Regions from separate parts of the Homo sapiens genome. Here region 1 is linked to region 2. The links come from fine-mapping of genetic effects on plasma protein levels. A gene starts in region 2. The other region holds a variant in brackets. All regions are shown on one strand. Distances are from middle to middle.

Region 1 (8,346 bases), 69 kb after region 2:
CTTCCATAAGAACTACAGACACTGTGACCTATCTACTCTTTTTGATACGTATAATTTCTTTATGCTTGCTTTCCCAAACCAAATCAAAATCCTGTTTACACTGATGACTGGAAACTTGTATGTCTTAATCATACACTTCTTGAGAGAGACAGGCCAACAAGGCGCTTGGGAGGCATGCACACACGATTGCTATTTCTTCTTTCTCAACTAGACACTTTCAGGTGTTCCATACCCTTCTTAAAGTAACATCCTCCATCCATATTAATTAGCAAAATTGTCTCTGTTGACCACCCTCCAACATGCCCTATTAAAATTCCATTTCATAGGTGTCAATAGTGAAGGCAACACCGTTATCCTTACTCAATGTGCTTTTCTACATTTATATTTTTACTTGTGTGTTGTTGATTGAATCCTTAAGCGTCACACTACAGCACCAGTGGTCTCCAAACTGATTTTAATAATAAACTCCATAGCCAGTAAATCTTTTTGGCATGCGTTTGCCCTACAAACTGTGAATATTTGTTTACTAGATTATATGCATACAGGACTACACTACATATTTCTTTTATAATTATATAGTATATTAACAATTTAGTAATAAGACAGTAGTAGTAGTAACAATAAAGTGTATCAAAACTAGTATGCTTATGTAGACTACAGCAAACTAGTATCCAATATATTATAAAATACTATAATTTATTTACTTTGCATCACATACACAAAGGATGGGAAACAAGGAGTATGATATCATAAAGCCAATGTAAATATAAGTACAAGGCTAATTATTTTCCTTCCAAACCTAATTGACTGTCTTGTACAACACCCTGGGGTTCGTGCATCACCTTTGCCAAATGCTGTCATATTCTAGCAGAGAACATGAACGGAATTGTTATTACAACAAAAATATAATTTAAAATTATTTTATATCCATCTTTAGAACACATATTATGTAACTCACTGAATTATTCTTTGGCTTCACTTTGCAGTTCTTAATATAATAATAAAAGTAATTTGCATCTCCTGAAGGGGTATTTGCATGGTAGTGAACAGAATATCTTGAGTAGTTATGAAAAACTGGCCTGATATTTAAAATTTTCTCTGAATACACTAAAAAGTAAATAATAAACAAGTGGTTCTGTGACTTTATGGGGAAAAAAAGGAGATATAAAGACTAACACATCTTTTCAAGGTGCATGGAGAGAGACAAAGACCAAAGCAGGAACAGAAAATAGGTCCCCCGGCCTGTGTTCTGAAACAGTCACCTTGGTGGTACCTTGATACAGTAGTATTTGTAATTTCTACAATGAAAGAATACACTTTCATTCTTGTGCATGTATATAGTGATTTTTTAATAGTATGGTAAGGTCACTGGTAAAGTCACTAGTTGTAGCCTTCTATATAACTCTCATATGCCCTTAACTGTTCTCTTTTGGATAATCTTTCATTAAAAAATAGATAGTTAATAATGAGAATACATATTTGTTTTTTAGTTGGAGTTTTCAGATTTCTTAATTGGCACAGAATTTTAATCAGTCTGGTAAGTTAATGTTGACTGATAGTCTCTTTTTTAATATTGCCTATATCTTGAGCAGGTATACATTGCCTTCTAAATATCATTGCAGAAGGCTCTTTATCTTGTTAATTCATGTTCCTAAAAAACAGTTCTTTGGTTTTTACTATCTTATTTTACAAATATAGTTGATTCTCTTGAGAATTTGTTGAAAACTATGGACTTTCTCCCTGTGAAAATGCACATATTTACAAAATGACACTAGGTTAAGGCCTTTATTCTAGTATGATTATAGTATTAAACAACTTTCACACCCCTCAGTTCATAGGAAAATTATTTTTAATAAAGTTTTTTTATAAAATAAAACTTATTATTTTGCTGTAAACTTTATATGCAGAATTGTAGATGTGCTGCAGAGATAACAGTTTAAAACAGCAAAATAAGGAAACAGTGAGGAGGGGAGTTAAATAAGGGGCAGCCTTTCCCTATCATGACTGACTATTTTTTTTTTTTTTGAGATGGAGTCTCACTATTGTCACCCAGGCTGGAGTGTAGTGGCGCAATCTCGGCTCCCTGCAACCTCTGCTTCCCAGGTTCAAGCAATTCTCCTGCCTCAGCCTCCCAAGTAGCTGGGATTACAGGCGCCCGTCACCACACCCAGCTAATTTTTATATTTGTTTCAGTAGAGACGGGGTTTCACCATGTTGACCAGGCTGGTCTTGAACTCCTGACCTCAGGTGATCCACCTGCCTCGGCCTCCCAAAGTGCTGGGATTACAGGCGTGAGTCACCGTGCCCGACTGACTATTTCAACCTTTGCGGATGGTTGGGTCAGTGAGAGTGGCAAGAGAATTTCCAAAACCATGGGGTTGACTTCAGAATCAGGTGGATAAAGTCTGGACTCTAAGGCTCAGGCATCTCTGGTGCTCTGTCAAGAGTATTTGCCATGGTGGTAAAGAAATAGATGGTCCACGAAGTTTGGGAGCTGGGGATCAGAAACAAAGCGTGTGAGAATGGAGGTCAAAGAGTTAGCACCATTGAGAGAGAAGAAGGAAAATTCTTTATGAATCAGGAATTGTTAGCCCATGAACTATAAAGAGACTTATTTACCAAACCATGTGAAAGATTGATCTAAGGGTAGGTCAGTTTGAGAAGAAAAACTAAGACTTTCTTCCTTGGTCTGACTGAGCCTAAAGGAATTTTCCCCACTTAAAAATATCAGCCCTGACAGAAATTGTAGACTTTACAGGGCAATATTGAATTTGAATTTTACTGAGTTGATAGAGAATGCTTTGGAATTACATTATCTTAAATACTTAGAGTCAATGTCTAAATTCCTTGAGTCTCTTTTGTAAATTACTTTAATGCTTTACTTATTTTATTGAGTCTCCTAGATCAATTCATTGTACATTATTCTGCCACATTCTGGGAACTATATGTAGACATTGAATGCTTTCAAATCCTTTCCTGCCCAAGGCCTTTGTGCTTGTGCTTTTCTCTGTACTCCTCTTTTTCTCTGATATTTATGAGGCCCTCTCCCTCTTCTCCTCAGGTGTTTACCTAAATAATATGTTCTCCGTGAGGTAACCACCCTATTTGAGGTTACAGCCTTCCTCTAAGATTCCCTGTCCCCTTTCTTTGCATTGTAATTTCTCTCATCATTTATCACGATGCAACAAAAACAATGTCTTTTTATTTTTCATGTTTGTTTTCTGTCTCCCCCCAATATAATATAATTCTATGATGGAAGAGTGTATGTCTGTGGTTTGCTGCTGTTTCTCAAGTGTCTGGAACAATGCACATAAACAGGCATTTGATAAATACTTAGTAAACAAATAAAGGAAAGATGGAAATAGGTACTTTCATTTATTCACCCAACAAACATATGCAGTGCCTTCTGAGTATAGATCACCATAGTGGTCACTTGGGATATGATAGTGAATAAAAAGGACCTGGTCTGTGCTCTGAAGGAGCTTACAGTATATCCAGAACACAGGCCCATAAGTACATAAATATAACATGATGTTATAAATGCCATAAAATACTGAGAGACTGCAGAAGAGGGAGCTGTTAACTCTTCCAGGAGTAGTCAGGGAAGACTTTGCTGAGAGGTTGACCTTTGAAATGCATTCTTAAGAATGAGTAGGAATTCACTAGGGAAAGAAGGGTTGGAAAGATAGAGCAGGTTTCATTTAGCATGCATAGATATGTAGTTACAGTGAAAGAGACTGATGCTGGGGCAGTATTTTCAGGCATGTGAATATAAATGGGAAGAACGTGTGACCATCACCCCTTTCTGCACTGTACCTCTGAAGATCACTCTTGGCTAGCAGCATTAACTGCTGGGTACAATATTTCTATCTTTGTGGTCCTCTTCGCCTCAGCCAGTATGATGCTTTTGCTTGAAAAAAGCCACCTCATTCTCTGATTGTTTTATGCCAAGTTGGTGTGTTGCCTGTGATTGTTTCCCAGCGTTCCACAGCTTGAAGTTTGCTTTAGTGTATCCTTATGGTGTTTCTTATGCCTGCCCTGCTTGCAGGCTACATATGTTGTACCATTTTACACTTGGAGACCTTCCAAAATGCGTGAGAGAGAATGAGACCAAAGTGGTTGCCTTTAACCAGAGGGGGTAGACAGGCAAAGAATCCTGGATTCCTAGAATCAAAGAGTTGAAACACCCTTGAGAAGTCAACAAGACAATTTTCTGGATGCTTGGCAGGACTGCAGAAAAGGTTTTCCAGGAATACCACTAATATTTGTTCATATATATTACTAAATGAACTTTTAAATTAATTCTAAGTAACAATTGACTATTAAAAATTAAGCAGCAAATGCACAGATCTTATTTTCTCAGAATAATAAAAGTTTTCATTTTGGGTGATGTATTTATTCATGCAAATGATAGATAGTATGATGTTTAAAAAATGAAATAAATGTAATAGTGGCCTTCCATTTCCTGGCATATGTAACTAAAACTATTAAGAAATTAAAACCTTCACTCTTTTATAAAACATGATGTTTGGAAGGAATTCATCTTTGAGAGGTCTATTATTGAGATAGAATTCTTTTTTCCTCATATTGATACTGATCTTTCAGAATGATGCAAATAGTTGGTACTGGTTAGAAGGTAACCTTTTGTAAAGTGATCACATCTAAGTTTGTAA[T/C]TGAGGCCTTACGAAACTCAAAACTTTCAAAAAGAATCACTCTCAAGGAGTACAAATCTAGAAATACAATGGTAGACACAAATTATTGGAGACTGTTCAAGACATGGCTTGTTCAAGAAATGTAGTAGGTATTATGACATACCACAAAAATACAGGCATGATTTATTGTTTCAAAGAGATTGGGGAGATTATACATACTATGCTAATGGGGAGATTACACATCTGAGAACAGTGCATGGTATATGCTCAACATTCTGAGCAGCATTGCAATGACAGTATTGTTGAGCATTCTGAGCAAGTGATACCTTGGCAAGTGCTCCAGAGATTTAGTGGTTGGGGAAATTGCTGTGAGATGAAGTGGATAGAGGGAATACTCATAGTAGAAATAGAACCTGAGATGTTTTGCATGGATAAGGAGAAACAGCAAGGACACCACAGACTAGGAACAAAAAAATCACACAAGTAAATGTGTAAAGATGGTCAAGGGTAGAACATACAAGACCAAATTGGAAGAGTCAGCTTGGAAGGTTTGATAGAAACCAGAATATATTTGGTGTCTTAAATGCCAAGATGGTAATCTAACTTTTTGTTTGTTTGTTTGGAAATGGAGAGCTGGAGAGGATTCCCAGCAGAGCAGCAGCATGATGAAATTGTGCTTTAAAGTAGCATGATTCTTGGTCCTTAAGGTACAAACAAGGAACAAGACTAAAGAATTGTTGGAGGTCGGGTGCAGTGGCTAATGCCTGTAATCCCAGCACTTTGGGAGGCAGAGGCGGGTGGATCACTGGAGGTCAGGCTGCTGTCGCCACCCAGCTCTAGTCTATTCTAGGTGGAAAACGAGAAACAAGGGTGGAAACAACACGTATTTCCTGTGTGTGTGTGTATGTACATGTGTGTGGAGGTGGATCACTAGAGACCAGCCTGGCCAACATGGTGAAACCCCGTCTCCACTAAAAATACAAAAAAAAAAAAAAAAAAAAAAAAAAATTAGCCGGTCATGGTGATGCACGCCTGTAATCCCAGCTACTCGGGAGGCTGAGGCAAGAGAATTGCTTGAATCCAGGAGGTGGAGTGAGTGAGCTGAAATCGTGCCACTGCACTCCAGCCTGGGAGACAGAGCAAGTCTCAAAAAAAAAAAAAAAAAAAAGAATTGTTGGAGAATGTGTATAAGTATCACCTAGAATAATTAAAGCAGTGGCTAAGAACAACAGCTCAAGAGTCAGACTATACAGGTATGAATTCTGGTAGCTCTACTTAGTAGTTGTGACCTTAGATAAATCAGTTAACTTCTCAGTGCCTCCTTTTCCTCAGCTATACATTATAGATATTGACAGGGATTCCCTCATGTCTTTGTAAATGAGCCGAGATGCATAGGATTTTTAGAACAGTGCACAGTAAAATTTTAATAAATATTAGCTATTTTTATTATTAAAGAACAGTGCTAACTAGCTATCATGCAGAGATTATCGATCAGATTTCTATACCACCTCTAAAATGGAAGTAATGCCGACTCCTACATTGCAGACATGCTCTCACGATAAAATGAGAAAATTGCTCTAAAAGTCCCTGGCACAGAGCAGGCAGGGGTAATAATTAATTAGTTGATCCATGGCCTCAACCCCAGGCCACAATTTAAATTTAATCTCTTAGTTCAGATGGGTTTGTTTGGTAAGATGGAAGGAGGAATCCCTGTAGTCTCTGGACTCAGAAGACAGACTCAGACTGACACCTTATTTGGGTTTCCTGTAGAATGACGAAGACACAAAGACATGAGGAAAAGTCTTTGTTTGGGGAAACTTGATACTTTTCTGTTATTGCCAAAACAAACTCATTTGGACAAATAAAAATTGATTTGGAAATTTTAAAATAAAAATTGCAAACCAAACAGGATGTAGCCTGGTTAGGGAGGAAATGATTCACTGGATTAACGTAATCAAACAGCTCTATTTGTACAAGACTTAAACAATCACTAAGTTCTATCTTCAACACTTAATGCTGCTGTGGCCACCCAGCTCTAGTCTATTCTAGGTGGAAAATGAGAAACAAGGGTGGAAACAACACGTATTTCCTGTGTGTGTGTGTGTATGTGCATGTGTGTGCATTTGCATGCATGCACACACATATACTTAATGCCTTTGCTGGCTATCAACTTTTCTTACAACTGTGTGCTTCCAAATGATTTTTAAATTTCAATGTGTTTTTGGCAGAGGATAGATTTCCTTTCCATGAATATAAGGTAGTGAGAGCAAAGGCACTAAGTAGAAACAGTCTGAAAGTCAAAGGAATACTGTTAAAGATCCCTCTCCTTTTCCTTTTCCTGTAAAAGATAGGGTAGGAAGTGGCATGTGGCTAGAGGATTTACAGCCACATGATGGAGGACGGGAGAGCTGTCACCTGCTTTGCTACGCAGGGTGCCCAGCTTAACCCATCTTTCTTTGGCAACTGTGCCCCAGTGAGAAAAGCTAGCAGTCCATATGTTGAGTAGGCACCATGCCATTTTGACAGGCGTGAGTGTCGGCAAGAAAGGGACCATGTATGAGCATCAAATGTGTTTGTTGTGGGAAGGATTCTAGGCCAGGAATATTAAAATAACTGTCTGTCCTTAGCTCTAGCACATATGGTTAAGGAGATATGCTATGATGACTCACATTAACGTTGGAAAAAATATATATAGAATACGCAACCATGCTAAGTAAGTTTCTGATGTTGATAAATTGGGCCTGTAATCTTCACAAAGAAAGGTTGTAGAGAAACATACATAGCAATAATAGACTCTCTTTTATGTATTAAATAGAATTTACTAAAGACTAAATTCATACACTATTATAGTTCTCCTGAACTGGTGAACAAATTGGAGGATCCTATTAGATTTTTGCTGAGAGGTCCTCAGGTATTTCCTAACACTATTTGAAAAGTAAATGGGATAAAATGGGTTCATTTAATATTTCAATTCCAAAGAAATTAAATTAATGTTAGCAATGTTAGTTCAACTATTTTTCTGCTACAGGGACCATTTGTTTTAAAATCATTAAAGGATTTTAAATGACACTGTCCTGACATTTGGTGTGATTAAATTAAGGGAATTAGTATAAAGACATTTTGTCTCTCCTTAGCTTTCTAAATGAATAGTACATCTTCCTAAGTAGTAAAAAGGAATTACTGACCTATTTCTGTATTTATATTGACTTGCATATGTGTTTGTTGACTTTCTAAACATTTAGGCATATCACTGCTTCAATTCACAATTGTCCCTTCATAGATTCCAACAAGCTTGCTTAATTCCTTGGAAAGGCAGCATTGTATGGTGCTAAGGATATAGGATTTAGAGCTTAAGACATGTATGTGAGATTTGATAGTAGTCCATAAGGTGTTTAAACTTAAACCTATATGCATACATACACATTTCTCTCTCCAAACCCACACAAGCTTGGCATTTGTCATTTTTAAGTCTAGAAAGGCACATCTAGTTTATCTCTAGCTCTAGTAAGTTGGCCTCCTAGGGAAATGCCCTAGTAACAATCTAAATATGTATCAGGGAGGCGTCTGATTAAGCAATGTGTTGTTTCTCAAGATCATGTTTCTCAAAGATGAAGAAAAACTTTTAACGTAGTTTATAATTTCTTATATATTATGGTTTTTTTATTGCATGCTTCCCCTAACTAGAATGTAATCC
Region 2 (8,318 bases):
AGGAGTCACAGGGAGGGTCTGCAGATGTGCAGGATGCCACAACGGCACAACCTTGCCCCTTCCCAGGGCATTCTGCATTTTTCTTTCCCTCTGGGTTTGGTCCAAGTCCACCTCAACCTTGAGCACACTCTCCTCAGTTTTTCTAACATTCTCTTTGCCCCATGCCCCTTTCCCATGTCCCCTTAGGGGAGGTTTCATCTCTTTTATGCTGCTGTAAAAAATTTTTCCTTGGTCTGGCTGAACTCTGAATCCTATCCGCTCCCTCCTCACAATGTCTTCCTTGATGACCCGAGTGTTGATCTCACTGAATGAGAGGCGGAGAGCTGCCATGTCAAAGAGGAGCCAGATGACAGAAGCTACAAAGATAAATGCCAAGACTCGCCCACTTCCTCGGAAAAACTTTCGGATCCTGTTCATGGTACAAAGCTTTCCCTAGCAGCCTGCCCTCCCTTAGCCTGCTTACCTTGAGTGGAGAGGAAGCTGAAGTAGCAGCAGCAGCAGCAGCAGCAGCAGAGTTGCCAGAAAGTGACCCCCTCCCCTGAACACAGCAGGAAGCAGCAGTCCAAGGGGAAAGCTCAGTTCCTACCGCTTGTCAGTCTCTGCCTGCGTGGCATTTCATAGCAGAGCATCTGTGCCTGCTTGGCTGGCCCTGGCTAAGTTCTGATAAACACTGGCCTTAGGTCACTCCAGGAGCAGTTGATTCCAGCCACCGAACAGTTCAACATATCACTTGTCTTGTCTCCGGGAGCCCATGTCCACCTTCCTACAAGCCCAAGAAAAGGTGGGGGCCAGATTGAGACTGCCGTTTCTCTCCTCCCCGTTCTCCGTCTGCACGCTGTAACTCAACACCACTTCTCATAAGGAAAACATTTCATGCCATTACCCAGAAAACTTCATTCAGCTCTCACCTTCTGTGTTATGTGAGAGCATGTGTGTTTAAACGGCAATTAAAGAGGAAAAAAAGCTATCTAACTTGGAGGGCATGTGTTCCTGGTTTGTGACCCCACCTACCCTACTCCTGCTCATTAACCCTGTTGTAGCCAGGTGCCAATGCTCTGCCTGAGGAATTTATCACTGAAGTTAACATTTCAGCTTTAAGACATAACAGCTTAAAGAAGGGGCCTGGTATATCCTCACTTCCAGAGATGTATATGTTTAATTATTTAGATCATTCATTCAAGGGGTTTCAATGTATTTCTTTGTAAGCCAACTATTTTTTTTTCACTAATCCATCTGTTTTTATTATTACATTTGATTACAAATAAACTTAATTTGTCATACTGCTATAAAAGTTTCTAAACACTTTGTTATGGTCTGAATGTTTATGTCCACCCAAAATTCATATGTTGAAACCTAATCATAAATGTGATAGTATTAGGAGGTAGGGCTTTTGAAGGTGATTTCATTATAAGGATAGAGCCCTCATGAATGGGATCAGCACCCTTAAAAAAGAGGCCCTATTGCCTTGCCATTCCACAAAGTGAAGACATAATGAGAAGGTGCCATCTATGAACCAGGAAATGGGCCTTCACCAGTCAACGAATCTGCTGGTGCCTTGATTTCTGACTTCTCAGTCTCTAGAACTGTGAGAAATAAGTTTCTGTTGTTTATGAGTCACTTAGTCTATGTTATTCTTCTATAGTAGCCTGAACAGATTAAGATACACTTACTCTCAGTTTCAGTACTTATCTCGTCTTAAACCAGCAAGCAACAGTTTCAGGACCACACCAGGACTTGGACCAGATTTTGAGTGATGCTGGTTGACTGGTAGGGTAGCAGTTCCGCCACAGGCTTTTCATTAGAACCACTTGAAACAAGATCCCCAAAACTCTGGTCAATTGATGAGAGAGGAGGTGGAGATGACATTTGGGCTGATATTGTATTAAATATATATATATATATATATATATATATATATATATATATATATTTTTTTTTTTTTTTTTTTTTTTACAAAGCTTCCCAGGTCTTTCAAATGTGCAGCTAAAGTTGAGAAACACTGGTCTAGAAAAAAAGTCTCAATTTTTTGTTTGTTTGTTTTTGGTTTTTGAACATTGCCTATGAGACATTTAATTTTAGGTGTCTACTTGACTGGGCTAAGGAACACCCAGAGAACCAGTAAAGCATTATTTTTAGGTATATCTGTGAGGGTGTTTCCAGAAGAGATTGGCATTTGACTCAGTGCACTGAGTGGGGAGGAGATGCCCTCACCCAATGTGGGCAGGCACCACTAATTGGTTGAGGGCCCAGATAGAAAAAAAGGCAGAGGAAAGGTGGATTCTGTCTCTGTTAGTGAGCTGGGACATCTTTCTTCTTCTGCCTTTGGACTAGAACTTTAGATTCTCTGGCTTTGGCCTCTGGGGCTTGTACCAGTCTGCCCCCACAACCTCCACATCCCTCACTAGGTTCTCAGGCTTTTGACCTCAGACTGAGAGTGATGTTATTGGCTTCCCTGGTTCTCAGGCCTTTGGACTCAGAATGTGCCATGTTACTGGCTTTCCTGGTTCTCCAGCTTGCAGGTGGCCTGGACTGAGGTTTCTCAGTCTCCATAACCACATGAGCCAATTCCTGTAATAAACTGCAACTCACTTATCTACCTCTATGAATCCTATTGGTTCTGTTTCTCTGAAAAATCCTGGCCAATACAGTCTACAACTTGTGTGACATTCCTTCCCTGTCTAAAGTACAGTCTAATAAAATCTATGCATTCCCATAACAACTAAATCAGAATACACATTTTGACATTGCCAGTTGTAAAGATTGTCCATAGAGTTTGAGAAGCACTTCTCGGGACCACTGTCCTTCTCTCTGAGGAACTCTGAGTGATTTGTGGACAACACTGCTGTTCATTACTCTAGTGTGGGGAGGGTCTAGCTTCCATGCTTTGAGGTAAACTTATGTTCCCAATGACTTGGGAGGGGAAGGAGAGATTCCAAATTCATATATATATCTCAAGCACTTTGCTAAGTTCTTTCCATTGACTATCTCACTCAATCCTCACAAGAATCTAATGTGAAGGAGTAAATTACAATATGTATTTTGTAGTCAGCAAATGAAACCTTAGAGAGGTAAAGCAACTTCTGGTAGAGATTGGAGGGGTTGGGTCTTGAATACACGACTGTAGTCCGTGTGCTTCAATATCACACAATACTGCTCTCTAGCTGTATGATCTTGCAGGCTAGTTAATTTTATGTGGTTACTGAGCAATAAAAAAAAATTCTGCTTTGCAGATTAATGTGAGAATATTTAAAAATGGTTAAAGTTATTGTTATATTGAAGGTACTCTTTAAATGTTAGCCATTCATATTGTTGCTAATACTTTGCTGTAATAGGAGTGTCGGATGCATGTGGGAGGCAATGTACCAGCTCTTCCCAAAAAAACAAGTAGAAAACTAGTGACTAACATGATTCTGGCAATGGGGAAGAAACAAATCTGAGTATTTTATTTTATTCTTGCCATTCTTATTTCCTCTAATTATAGATTTAACAAGACCATTGTTCACTGAGAACTCCCTACATGCCCAAAACATGAAGTAGGTGACATTGTCTCTGCCCCTAACAACCTTAAAACTCCCCTCAGTAGAACGCCACCAGTATAATAATAATAATAATAAAAAAAGAACGCCACCAGCAAAAAACATAGCACACATCTTTAGCATCCACATTCGAAAATAAAGTGAGAATTTTTTTTAGCATCATGGATAAATGGTTTGCATTACAATATTGTTTTAAACATGAAAATAGAATACTTTAAAATTATTTTACTCTGCATGATTCAATCTTGTCCAGCCACCATCCCACCCCAAATGGCAGTTGGAATTACTCAAATGTCTTTTAGGAAAGTCAACACTTGTTATATTCTATGCTTGGCAGTTTAAAACACTGCTTGAAATATATTCTTGTTTCCATATAAATTTTATCAAAGAGTACTGATTTCTTTTTATCCCTCTCTGGTTTGTCCTTGCGAATCAAAACACAAATTACTTGCAACAGGAGAGCAACATGTTAAGAAAATTAAAAGGGAATCTTGGCTTATCTATCATGGGTAAAGCAACACATTAACTCTGGCTTAGTCTTCGGTCTATTTGACATACAATTCAGAATGAAATGTGAAGAGTGGGTAGGAGAGTAAGGAAACATTGATTAAATATCCTAGAAATGGAGGAGTAGATTTGTTGTCAGACCTGGTCTAAAGTACTGACTTGGCCACTAATAGCCATATGACTATGGATGTGTCACACATGGAAAAGCTTGTGTAAGGTTCTCTTCCCAGCCTCTTCTTGGTCTTTTCCCTTGTGAGTTTATGATAATCTGTGATGATGGTAGAAGTTGGTTATAAGCCATACCACTAATTCAACACTATGTGTCTTCAGGCACTCAGTAATAATTTCTGTGGCCCTCATAGCTGTACATCTTTCTCCTTTTTTTTCTCTTTTCCGACACACATGCTGTTTCACATCTCAGATCAATGAATTGCATAGGTAAAAGGAATAGAAAAAAAAGGATATTAGGAAATTCTACCTTTTCATCAACACACATATTGCCCAACACATGACATTTGTATATTGGTAAATGACGGTGCTTCTAAAATTTTAGTTGTATTAATTTCCATGTTACCAGCAGGAAACTAAATACGTAAGTGGGTTGGTTATTTGAGGTACCCCACAGTTAGGGAGCCTGGCTTGTCATCCCAAGTCGTAGAATGCAGGTACCTTTGGCTGGTCAAATTTCTCAAGAATCTGTACATACTTAGTTGGAGATGATATCCATCTGAAAATCTGGAGTTACGAATTATCCTTGGGAGACATTTGGAGGGGTTATTCCAATTATCAGTCTGACTCCAGCTTGTACTAAACATTTAAAAACAGATTTTAGTTTCTTCTTCTGTAAAACGAGCATAATAGTAGGAGGACTTGCCCTCTACTCTATTTGGTTGTTGTCAGGATAATCATATTAATAGCAACCTTTCATTGGGAATTTACTGAGGGCCTACCACTAGTCACTTCACGGTATCTCATTTAATCCTCAACATTTAATTTTCTCAGACTAGATCAAAAACTGTTCAGCAAAACAGATCTGCATAAAGTTAGAGTGAAAAGTATATTTGTGTTATATTCTCATGGCAAATGTCTTTGAATCATCCTCATTGTTAATCAAGTAGGAGCTCAGTAAACACTGTTTTATATCTAGCCTTAAATCTCCCTGATGGAAGTACAGAATCTTAGAAACACCGGTTCCAGCTCTCTGGCTTTGCATCTACAGTTACTTTATCTGGGTATTTGAAGATTTCTTGACTATGTGAGTATATCCTAAGTAACTAATATCTGTTTTATTTTATGATATTTACTCAACTACTCACTCCTAAGTAAAAAGAAAGATGTAAAAGGAAAATTAATTTAAATGTATATTTTACAGAGAATAATGATTATCCATGGATGCATCACTGAATTTCTTTTTCCCCAGTTTTACTGAGCTATAATTGACTAATAAAATGATACATATATTAAATATTTAAGGTGTACAACATGACTTTGGATAGCCTTATACATTGTGGTATGATTGCCTCAATGCAGCTGATCTCCATTATCTCACATAATTATCTTTTTTTGTGTGTGGTGAGAACATTTAAGATCTACTCTCTTAGCAAGTTTCAAGTATACAATATATTATTATCAACTATGGTCATCAGGCTGTACATTAGCTCTCCAGAACTTACTAATCCTGCGTAACTGAAACTTTGTATTCTTTGACCAATACCTTCCAACTTTCTCCATCCCCCAACCCGCAGTAACCACCATTCTACTCTCTACTTCTATGAGTTCAATTTTTTAGCTTCCGCATATGAATGAGATCATGCAGTATTTGTCTTTCTATGCCTGGCTTATTTCACTTAGTGTAACGTCCTCCAGGTTCATCCACAGTGTTGCAAATGATAGGATTTTCTTCTTTTTTGAGGCAAAATAACATTCTTGTGTGTGTGTGTGTGTGTGTGTGTGTGTGTGTGTGTGATATATATGTATGTATGTTGCACTTTCTTTATTCATTCATCTGTTGATGGACACTTAGGTGAATTCCATATCTAGGCTATTATGCGTAATGGTGCAACGAACATGAGACTGCAGCTATCTCTTCAAGGTGCTGATTTAATTTCCTCTGGATATATAGCCAGAAGTGTGATTGCTGGGTCATATGGTAATTCTATTTTTTAGTTTTTTTGAGGAAACTCCACACTGTTTTCGATAATGGTTGTACTAATTTACATTCCCACCATCAGTGTACAAGTGTTCCCCTTTCTCCATATCCTTACCAACACTTGTTATCTTATATCTTTTTCATCATAGCCATTCCAAAATGTATGAGGTGATATCTTATTGTGGTTTTGATTTGCACTTCCTTACTGATTAGTGATGTTAAGCATTTTAAAAATATGCCTGTTGGCCATTTGTATGTCTTCTTTTGAAAAAGGTCTACTCATTTTTTTTCCCTATTTTTAAATCCAGTTGCTTTCTTGATATTGAGTTGAGCTCTTTGTCAATCAGTAGGAGCGCAATAAACATGGTTATATATTTGAGATATTAACTCCTTATTGGATGTATGGTTTGCAAATATAGTCTGTCATCCATAGGTTGTCTTTTCACTCTGTTGATTGTTTTCTTGGCTGTGCAGAAACTTTTTAGTTTCCTGCAGTGTCATTTGTCTATTTTTGTTTTTGTTATCTGTGCTTTCGGAGTTCCAAATAATCACCACTCAGACCAATGTCAAGATTTTTCCCTGTGTTTACTTTCAGTAGTTTTACACTTTTAGGTCTTCTGTTTAGGTCTTTAATCAACATTGAGTTGATTTTAAACCACAAAGAAATTAAGCAAACAAGCCTATTTACAATAGCATAAAAGTACTTAGGAATAAATATTTTTTAACCAAGGAGATGAAAGCATTTTTAACTAAGAAGGTGAAATCTCTGTGTACTGAAAACTATAAAATATTGATGAAAGAAATGGAAGACATAAACAAATGGAAATATATACTGTGTTCACAGATTGAAATAATTAGTATTCTTAAAATGTTCATACAAACCAAAGTCATCTATAAATTCAATAAAATGTCTATCAAAATTCTGGCGTTTTTCACAGACATAGAAAAAAAATCCTAAAATTTGTATGGAACCATAAAAGATATCGAATAGTCAAAAAAATCTTGAGAAAGAAGAAGCTAGAGGCATCATAGTACCTGACTTCAAAAATATGCTACCAAGTTATAGCAATCAAAATAGTATACTACTGTCTTGAGACAAGCCTGGGCAACATTATGAGACCCCCATCTCTACAAAAAATAAAAAAATTAGCAGGGCATCGTGGTGCACCTCTATGGTCCTAGCTACTTGGGAGGCAGAGGTGGGAGGATAGCTTGAGCTCAAGAGGTCGAGGTTGCAGTGAACCGAGTTTGTACTGCTGTTCTCCAGGTTGGGTGACAGAGCAAGACTCTGTGTCAATAAAAAGTATATGATACTGCCATAAAATCAGCCACATAGACCAATGGCACAGAACAGAGAGCCCGGAAATAAATCCACAAGTTTACAATCAGTTGTTCTTTGACAAAACAGCCAAGAATGCATAAAGTGGAAAAGGTAGTTTATTCAATAAATGGTGTTGGAAAAATTGGATATCCACATGGATAATTAATTTCAACTCATTGCGACTTCAGACAATACAGGATGAAGATACTAATTAGAAAATTTAAATGGGAAAACCAAGTAAATACTAATTACTGTTTTTTTCGGATTTTAATGTGATTTTTTTCTTTCCAAATTCTCTCTTTCTCTTTTTTAGAGAAGAGACAAGTTGTAATCAACTGGATAATAACATCCTGTGAAACAAATCCATAAAAGGAAAGAAAAGTTTTAAAATCATATACTAAAAGGCAGGCATTATTGCAATATCAACAGGTAGAGTAAAAATACAAATGGAAATATTATTCCATTTTAACTAATTCTTCCAATGAAGATGAATAGTTACAACTTCTGGCAGTCATTAAACATTGGTGTATGTCTCTTTTTAAATAAAATTTGGAAGCTGACTAACAAATGACCTTATTTCCTAAGACCAAGAGAATCAGTATACCCTTTACACATTTGTTCTTGAAAAGGGTTGCCTGTATTAGTGATAAATCATAATTGGTTAAGCCTAAGTTTAAAAAAACAAGAACCCTATTATTGAAAGACAATTTATTGTGTTTAGACCTCAGTTTTCATTGATTTTTGAGTAGTGAGGCTAAGCCAACATTTGTGCTATACTACTTTACAGGTCCCTAGCCAATTTTTA

Which allele goes with the higher level. Alleles are on the strand shown, and positions count from the first base shown. The strength of an association depends on the size of the effect and on how common the allele is.
With allele C in place of T in region 1, the plasma level of the protein whose gene starts at base 795 in region 2 is lower (moderate association).

What was found. A credible set is the group of variants that fine-mapping cannot tell apart. PIP is the chance, under the fine-mapping model, that this variant and not a neighbour inherited with it causes the effect. Protein levels are from antibody-based Olink assays in UK Biobank. Linkage for the fine-mapping came from a reference panel and not from the study's own genotypes, which makes the PIPs less certain.
Region 1: its variant is the best candidate, but not a certain one, in a credible set for the plasma level of the GALNT5 protein (UK Biobank, PIP 0.85).

Annotation. Positions count from the first base shown.
Region 1 is chr2:157,181,296-157,189,641 of GRCh38, reverse strand. No RefSeq gene overlaps it. Among named protein-coding and RNA genes, the nearest start is that of GALNT5, 72 kb to the left of the region's middle. The variant T/C (reference allele first, on the strand shown) is at 4,674.
Region 2 is chr2:157,250,182-157,258,499 of GRCh38, reverse strand. It overlaps GALNT5 (polypeptide N-acetylgalactosaminyltransferase 5), which reads right to left and starts at 795. Exons shown (of 10, transcript NM_014568.3): 1 at 1-795. The coding sequence starts at 417.